Regions from separate parts of the Homo sapiens genome. Here regions 1 and 3 are each linked to region 2. Evidence: fine-mapped QTL for protein levels in blood plasma. A gene starts in region 2. Each other region holds a variant in brackets. All regions are shown on one strand. Distances are between the middles of the regions.

Region 1 (2,765 bases), 14 kb after region 2:
CCTTAATCATGGAGCTGTTGCTGCCTTACAGGGACCTGTGAGCTCATGCACATGAATTTGCATTGTGTCACCTGAACTTTCTCTAAGGGGTAATGACTTTCTCATTGGTTTCCACTTCAGTGCCATCTTCCTCAGCATCTAATGCTGTTTGAGCTTAGTGACCACATTTGCAGTTTGTAATGTTAAATTTGCAGTGTGTAAATATTAAAGCACATATGTGTACTTTATTCCATAATTATTTATTTACAGGTTTTTTAATACCAGACTATGAACTCTTCAAGAGTCGTTTATCATTCATCTTTGTATCCCAAAGTTCTTGTTAAACATTAACCTAAATTCATTTTGTTCTTGTAATGAGTGATTGTATTTCCAATTTACAAACAGAAATCCTATATCTTCTCAACCTCTATTTTTGGGTATTAATAAAGGTAAAATTAGTTTTATAATCCACTTCATCTGATTTCTTGCTATGACTAATGTCAAACACTGTAAATTTTCTTTTGAAGTGTATAGTTTATTAATAAATCGTTCAATCACTAGGGTTTTTAACAAAACTATTTTTTAGAAACTCCATTAGTCAATATTTTTAAGTGAGGGTTGTTTAAAAATGTTTTCTGTTGCATATGATGGGAATAGATTTTTCTTAGGATTTTCTGAAAGTTCTGTACTTGGATTAGAAAAAAATATATATAATCTGTCGACTGCCATTGGCATAAAATCTGCATGAAATTTAATTCGTCTTGCATAAAACATGATGTTTGTCAAGGCATTAATGCACAGGATAGGTATCATTTTTCCTAAAGTCTAATTATTGTTTTCAAAAATGTTGGAATACTTGTAAATGTTGTAATTCTCAGTTCTGTCTATACTCTCACTTGATTTGACACTTATTCAGGGCCCTGGTTTGAATTGTACTGGGTTTTATTTCTACCCACAAACTCCAGGGATTCCCTGGAAATTCTAGTCATTGAGAGATTTTTCTAAAACACTCAATAAATCCTAGGAAACTGTCTGAAATGCTGCCAGATTTTCAACTGACTTTAAAAAATGTTCTTGAGCCAGTATAATAAAATAGGAATAGAGAGGAAGAACCCACATGGGGGTATGATCAGAAGAGATACTATGATTTTTGAAAGAAAGGTGTCACTATCTGAGAAGACTGCTGATGGCATAAGCAGATGAAAATGTCAGTCTTGGGAGGCATGTGAGACAGCTATTAGGTTTTTGGATAAAGAACGGCCAAAGCTGGTGGTGACTAGGAAATTTAAGGTGGTTGTGAAGAAC[T/C]AATTGAAAGTGTAGATAATTTCTTACTTTTCTGCTAATTACATAAGAATAAATATAATAGTGCAATTTGGAAATTAACAGAAATGAATATATTTCATTAGATCAAATAATATTTTATAAGGTAATCTTTCAAGTTTGAAGTGATAACAGATTTTTCTATTAATTTACTGTTAGTTGTAAACAAAAATTAGATGACTAGAGAAATTTAGCTATAAAATCTATGGTTTTGTTCCACTTCTCTCATTTTTGAAGTGATGAAACTGAGATCCAAGTGGAGTGGAGTCACTTGGGCAATATCACAAAGTCGGGTGGAATTCAGACAGGTCTAGGGTGCGTGTCTTCAGATTCTCTGTCCAGCGATGTTTTCACCAAGAATCACTTGATGATATTACTTCATCATCATGAAATAGGGATCAGGTGGCATAGCAGAAGTGAGATTTGTAGAGTTCCATCCTCAGCCTCACAAAGCAGAGTTTAAAAGGATAGTTTGGAGTTAAGAGATGACTTCTTAGTAATGCTCAGACCTGAAACTTGATTCCCTGGGTGTAACAGAAGATGATCCCTGTGGCCACTAACTCTCGGGGATGATACAGGCCTGGGACTGTCTGAATGACAGGATGTCTGAAATCTACTTTTAAAGAGAGTGCTTGCTATCTACTTTTAAAGAGAGTGCTTGCTCAAGCAAAAGTCCAGTACAAAGAGAGTAAAAGAGTCCAAATGAAACCAAGCTCTTGAAGGCAGGATCTTGCTTTGCCTGAGGTTTAACGAGAGCAGCCTGATTGTATCTGCTTAACATGGATATGACCTTTTTTTCCTCCTTAAATGTTACCTTTTAAGAAGGAAGTCCACTGGGTCTAGACAGGAAGCCCACTGGGACAGACAGGAAGTCCACAAGGAACAGATAGGAAGTCTGTTAAGGGCTTCCTTGGCCCACCCATCTAAACTCGCCCAGTCCCTGTTTCATTCCTATCCCTGTTTCCCACTTCCTATCCCTATTTTATTTTTCTGTTTGGCATTTATTATTAACTGTATCAATCACAGTCTAGTCAGGAGACAGAAACCACACAAATTATTTGAAGAGAGAGAATTAATACAATGCATTATGTAGGCATTTGAGTACTGAAAAATTAAACAGAGAATATCAAAGCACCCTAGACAACAACTACAAGAATATACTGCCCCTGGGGCTGAAGAAACTAAGGGGAGAGTTTGGGATTTTCAAAATTCAGACGTTTGGAGCTGGGCCTCAAATCCCTTAGTAGTAGGAGCTAGCTGGTGCTAGGACTCTGAGGGAGAACAGTGTAGCTGGTTCTTTAAGTAAGCTACAAACTAGAATCAGCGGCTGCAACTGGAATGATCTGCCACAGCAAGGGTGAAGTGAGAATGACAGGAACAGGAGGCAGGAAGCCCACTGGGGACAAACAGGAAGTCCACCCCTGGGAAAAACAGGAAGTGAGGGAACAGACAGAAAGTCCACAGGA
Region 2 (2,765 bases):
AACACATCTGAACATCAGAAGTAACAAACTCCAGACGCACCACCTTAAGAGCTGTACCCACTCACCGCGAGGGTATGCGGCTTCATTCTTGAAGTCAGTGAGACCAAGAACCCACCAATTCCAGACACACTATGGGCTCACAGCGTGTACTCGCGCACACGCAGTCAGGTGTGGATGTACACCCGCGCACACCCAGGCACATGTACACCCGCGCGCTCACACACCCCATCCAGCTACAGCAGAATTCTGGCCAGGCTGTTGACCGCACACCTGCTGCCTCCTTGGCCACCCTGTCCACACAGTAGCCCGATCGACCCCCGTGGCGGCCGAGACCCAGGCCCATCCGCAGCCCTGAGACCTCCCTAGGGATTGCACCCAGCAGCCAGTCACCGGCCTCCGCGGCCTGGCCAGTTGAGGGTGGCCGTGACCGCGGGGCCAGGAGCGCCGCCACATCTCGGGGCAAATGGCGCGGGGGAAGAGTTTCCTCCTCAGCCTCCCCGTCTCCGATCGCTCCGCAAACTCCAGAGCGAGGCACGCGCCTTTAAAGGCAGGTCCGCGGCTCTCCCACGTCCTGGCGCCCGGTTTTCCGCACCCAGTGTCCCCACAGCTGTGCCCGGGCACAGAGGCGCGGCCAGACCGCACTCCGCGGGCTGCAGGTGTCCCGGCCTCTGGCGGCGCCGGTGCGGCCCGGAGGTGGGAGCCCGCGGAGCCACTGCAGTAGCTGGAGTCCCGCCGAGTCCCCAGCCCCAAGGCAGGGCAGGAGCGCGCACCGGCCGGAGGTCCATGCTGAGCATCGCCCGCGCCGGTGCCCGGCAGCCTCTCCAACTGTGTGGTCCCCGCGCGGGCAGAGAGGCACGGACTGCAGGCCGTGGGCAGCTCCATCTTCCCGCGTCCTCCTCCTCTGGCGCTGCCCGCTGTCTCCCGCCTTCCCTCTGCTCCCCGCTCGCCTCCGCCTCAGCGCCCCGCTGACCTCGCCTCCTCCCCTCTGCTCTTTGTCCCTGCACTCTCCCCTCCTCGGTCCTCTGACCCCCCCGCCCTCACCTCCTCCCCTCCTCTCTCCCCTGCCCGCCCCGCGCTCTCCCACCGCTCCCGCCGCCCCCGCCGCCGCGGCTGCCACTCCGCCCCCCGCGCCGCACGGAGCTTCAGTAATAACCCCGGCGCGGCGGCGGAGTCGCTGTGGGGAATCCTCCCGCGCTCTGCCTGGGTCGGGTCCTCCCTGCCCGCTCGCACGCTGCCGGCCGGGGACCCTCCGGTGGCCCCTAGCCCCTCGGAGCGCTCCTGGATGAAGCCCCGCGCGCGCGGATGGCGGGGCTTGGCGGCGCTGTGGATGCTGTTGGCGCAGGTGGCCGAGCAGGTGAGTCCCGGGCGCTCCCACCAGCGCGGAAACCGCGGGTCCGGACAGCTGGAGGCGAGTCCCCCGCGGCTCCTCTCCCGCGGACCCCGCCGTCTCACCGCGATGTCGCCGCTGTTTTCCGCAGGCACCTGCGTGCGCCATGGGACCCGCAGCGGCAGCGCCTGGGAGCCCGAGCGTCCCGCGTCCTCCTCCACCCGCGGAGCGGCCGGGCTGGATGGAAAAGGGCGGTAAGTCCGTGAGGTGGGGGCTTCTAATCCTTGCCATTTAGCAGCTCGTAATCTCCGTGCCGCTGGTTTATTAGGTGCTGTGAATGTTCACGACTCTGTGGAACCCTACTTTTAAGATGCTGTTGTGAACTTTTTTTTTTTTTAACTGTATGAGCGAGCCCCGATGAGTGGATTTCCACCAATATTTACATTTTATTCCCTGGCAAAACGGTTTGCCAGAGTTATTGATATAACATTAGGAAAAAGGTGAGGAAGTTCATTTTATTTTATTCTAAAGAGCTTAGGAAGAATCTAAAGCTATTAATGTATGCATCAAAGCCGTCATAAAGAGCAAATTACTTTCTTTTCCGTCCCCTTCTACATCCTCGGATCCTCCTTCCCGTCCCCAACCTTTCCTCCTTCTCCTCCTTTATAGATTAAAATATTCCTCTATCGTTGCTTATTCTCAGTGAAGGAGATAAAAGAAGCGCTTAGCATCTCAATACCAAAGTTAATGCTCCAACAATCAGGGCGTACTTCAAACATAATAGTGCCTGAAATGGCTAATCAGCTGATTGTGACACCATCAGCAACGTTCATATCCTGGGCCACAATTTGACATGAGGGCAAGTCTTATTCTTTTTCAATGCATGCTTTTACTTCTGCCACTTACAAGTGACATTTGGAAATTTGCTGTCTTATGGAAAGGGATCTCTGTGTCTTCATACTGCATCAGGTAAATGAGAACGCAGGTGTGTCGCACTGGTTGCTAGGTGGTTTTTTAACCTGAACCCATCCAATGACAGTTAATAAATATTATTTTGCATTGTTACCAACAATAAATTGCCGTATCAAATGTTAATATTAATTGACTTTTATAGGAAGAACTAGGTTTCATTCTCTCAATGTATTTCCAGAAGATCTAGAAAATTAAAGTTAACAATTCAGAATTTCTCAGTATAGTTATTTCAATTTGATAAAATAACATAAAGGCAAGCACTTAATATATGCATTAACTTTTGAAATTATTCCCTGCCAAATGAGTACACAAATAGTATATAAGGTGACCGGTGTCAGATTGACGCTCACCATAGTACCTTTTTGAGAACCACCAGGGGGCGCTAGGTGCAAATGATATAAAATGTTAAAAAAAATTGTCACAGTGAATTTACAAGAGAAAGTTAATTATCTGTCCATTTACAGAC
Region 3 (2,765 bases), 55 kb after region 2:
CACCACTTCAAATGAGAAAGGCTGTGATGTGTAAGACTCAATGATAAAACTCCGTGTATCTTAGTTGAACTAAACTGAAGACAAACACATTTGTTCAGTTCATGTATTTAGTGAGTTTTATTTTTGGAAGAAGGAATGATAAGTTTGATGCATGGAGCAAACATCAGAGCATCAACGGTCTGCTTTTATCAATGAGCTCCAAGCAGAGTCAAATTTTTGAGTTCTGTACGTCAAGAATTAAAAAGCAATTCTGAATTTATTATGACTTTTACTATTAAAAAACGTGTAAAACATACTGCTTCGAAGGTAAATTTTACTTTTTCAGTTCTGTTTACATTCGGAGGACATTATTTGGGATGGAGGAGTACTTCTCCATGCCTGCAACTCATAGGTTTCTAACCTTTAACTCAAATAAAGATTTCAGTTAGTGTCCATCCAATCTGTCCTCCTAAGTTCCACTTTTTAAAAAAATCTCAAAATATCATGTAGTTTATGCTAGGGAATGTGACCTAAAAATAGAAATTACTAAGAACAGGTGTTTGGATTTGTGTTGGAAAGAGAGGAGGAGAGACTGGAACCAGAACTGAGATATGTGTTCTCCTGTAGTACATGGGATTGAATCAGGATTTGTATTAAGCTGGTGGTACAAGGAGAGTTTCCTGGTTATGTTAAATCACTTGACACAGGACATGTGGTTTGCTAAGGCAGGTGCTGAAGCATTGGCACAGATGCACCAAGGGCTGAACTGCGCATTTGGGAGAATATGTCATCTGTGCATGAATCCATCTGAAAAATTCCCATTTGCTAAGGGAAGTCATGTCATTTGATGGGTAGGGCTCTGGGACTCAGATTCCAGATCAGCACAGTGCTACCACAGTCTGATAGTGACCAGGGAGGGTGCCCTTAACAGCTCTTACCTAGGTTTCCGATCTGCAAAAACAATAGAGCACTATATGCTCCGTAGCTCATATATGCAAGTGTAATTTAGGTTGCATTATTTGAGCTGTACATTCCACTTATATAAAATAGGCTTAAATAGCCAAGTTGCATTATCACTTGAGACCATTGAGGTGCTATAAAACAAATAT[A/G]TTAACTGTGTGCAGAAGTATTCATTATTCATCAGTCTGTCTCTTGCATTTCCCCAAGTTTATGGACCCAGTCACTGGGCACAATTTGCATTCTGAGAGCAAGGCATTGTGTAGGAGTCTACAAAAAGACTAGTGATCTATGCCCTTCCAAAGTTTAAGAGAAAAGAATAAATAGATATGCCATGCAAGATATCAAGTAATGAGAGCTGTCGGTATTGCAAGAGACCACACAGGGACAATCAGGGAGGTCTTAAAAGAAGCAGCATTGGGCCGTGTGTGGTGGCTCACTCCTGTTAATCCCAGCATTTTGGGAGCCCAAGGTGGGTGGATCATGAGGTCAGGAGTTCCAGACCAGCCTGGCCAAGATGGCGAAACCCCATCTCTACTAAAAATACAAAAATTAGCCGAGTGTGGTGGCAGGTTCCTGTAATCCCAGCTACTCAGGAGGCTGAGGCAGAGTAACCTCAGGAAGTAGAACTTGAACTCAGGAAGTAGAGGTTGCAGTGAGCCGAGATCACGCCACCGCACTCCAGCCTGGGCAACAGAGAGAGCCTCCATCTCAAAAAAAAAAAAAAAAAAAGCAGCATTGGTGTCACTATTGGTATCACTAGTAGTTAGCTTGAAAATACCATTCAGCTCAACCACAGTCACTGGAGATGCCCCTTTCAGTATTTGATGATGACATGTGCCTCCACCCCATTTGTGGCTGTGCTTTGTCACCAGTCTGGGCCTCTTCCAGTGCATCAGGGAGGCATGTGGTGATTTTTAAAGACTTGAAGAATATTGGAGAAAGCCAGCCCCTCTAACCATCATCTGGACTGGGGATTGTCAGGCTGCTCTCTGGGTAGCTGTGGTAGGTCAGAGCATCAGTTCTTACCAATTTTATTTGTTGTCATTCCTCTTAGGATTTCTTGTCTGTTTCTGTGTCCAACAAGTATTTGAAATCCATTAATATTTGGCCAGACCTTCCCATACACATGCATGCACATATGCATACCAACCATGAATGGCACTTAGGTGTTATATGATTTGACCAAGACCACATTTGGATCCTGGAAGGGAATAGAAGTTTTGAATTTTCCTTTCTGATGTGCACAGTCCCAGGCATTCTGTACAGTTCATGAGGAAGGTTTTACTATCCCATTTTATATATAAAGAAACTGAGGCTGGGGGGGTCAAGTAATTTGCCCAATATCAAGCAGCTTGTGAATGACAGAGCCAAGACCCTGACTGAGGTCCCTGCACCTCCACAGCCCATGCTGTCTCCCATTTTCTTCTCTGCCCATTTCCCTCAGTTCCCCGCAACTGCTGTCTTCAGCTCAGCCTTCTATCTTTCATGGAGGGTGAGCTGTGCTTCTCCAGATGCCTGCATGAAGCCTGCGTCAGGGCTCTGGGCAGCTCAGTCTTACCTGTGGTCGCCATCATTATGCCAAAGGTAGACTTTGCCATCCAGATAACATTGGCCCATGGTTCCTTTAAGAATGTCTCATGTCCTTAACCACTACTGTCTGAACAGCCTGAAATAAGTGATACAGCCTCTACAAACACTTGGCTGGTTATTCAGCATTCTCAGTATATCATTAATAATAAACAAATACTTCCCAATAGTAATTGAATCACTCAAAAAATATTGTAGAAGATGATAAAAGCATGACATTGAAATATAATTCCCAAATT

Alleles and levels. Positions count from the first base shown, and alleles are read on the strand shown. Strength reflects both the effect of a copy and how common the allele is.
For the plasma level of the protein whose gene starts at base 1,145 in region 2, allele T in region 1 goes with a lower level than allele C (weak association).
For the plasma level of the protein whose gene starts at base 1,145 in region 2, G is the high allele of the variant in region 3 and A is the other (weak association).

Evidence for each region. A credible set is the group of variants that fine-mapping cannot tell apart. PIP is the posterior inclusion probability: the model's chance that the variant is causal. The UK Biobank Pharma Proteomics Project read protein levels with antibody pairs (Olink). The fine-mapping took linkage between variants from a reference panel, not from the people measured, so its PIPs are less certain.
Region 1: its variant is the best candidate, but not a certain one, in a credible set for the plasma level of the ADAMTS16 protein (UK Biobank, PIP 0.62).
Region 3: its variant is the best candidate, but not a certain one, in a credible set for the plasma level of the ADAMTS16 protein (UK Biobank, PIP 0.51).

What each region holds. Positions count from the first base shown.
Region 1 is chr5:5,153,061-5,155,825 of GRCh38, forward strand. The region is part of intron 3 of ADAMTS16 (ADAM metallopeptidase with thrombospondin type 1 motif 16); the gene reads left to right. The region is part of intron 1 of ADAMTS16-AS1 (ADAMTS16 antisense RNA 1); the gene reads right to left. Among named protein-coding and RNA genes, the nearest start is that of ADAMTS16, 14 kb to the left of the region's middle. The variant T/C (reference allele first, on the strand shown) is at 1,285.
Region 2 is chr5:5,139,186-5,141,950 of GRCh38, forward strand. ADAMTS16 (ADAM metallopeptidase with thrombospondin type 1 motif 16) reads left to right here and starts at 1,145. Exons shown (of 23, transcript NM_139056.4): 1 at 1,145-1,354; 2 at 1,479-1,581. The coding sequence starts at 1,283. It overlaps ADAMTS16-DT (ADAMTS16 divergent transcript), which reads right to left and starts at 869. Exons shown (of 4, transcript NR_109915.1): 1 at 771-869. RefSeq lists an enhancer at 351-917.
Region 3 is chr5:5,194,589-5,197,353 of GRCh38, forward strand. The region is part of intron 8 of ADAMTS16 (ADAM metallopeptidase with thrombospondin type 1 motif 16); the gene reads left to right. Among named protein-coding and RNA genes, the nearest start is that of ADAMTS16-AS1, 20 kb to the left of the region's middle. The variant A/G (reference allele first, on the strand shown) is at 1,089.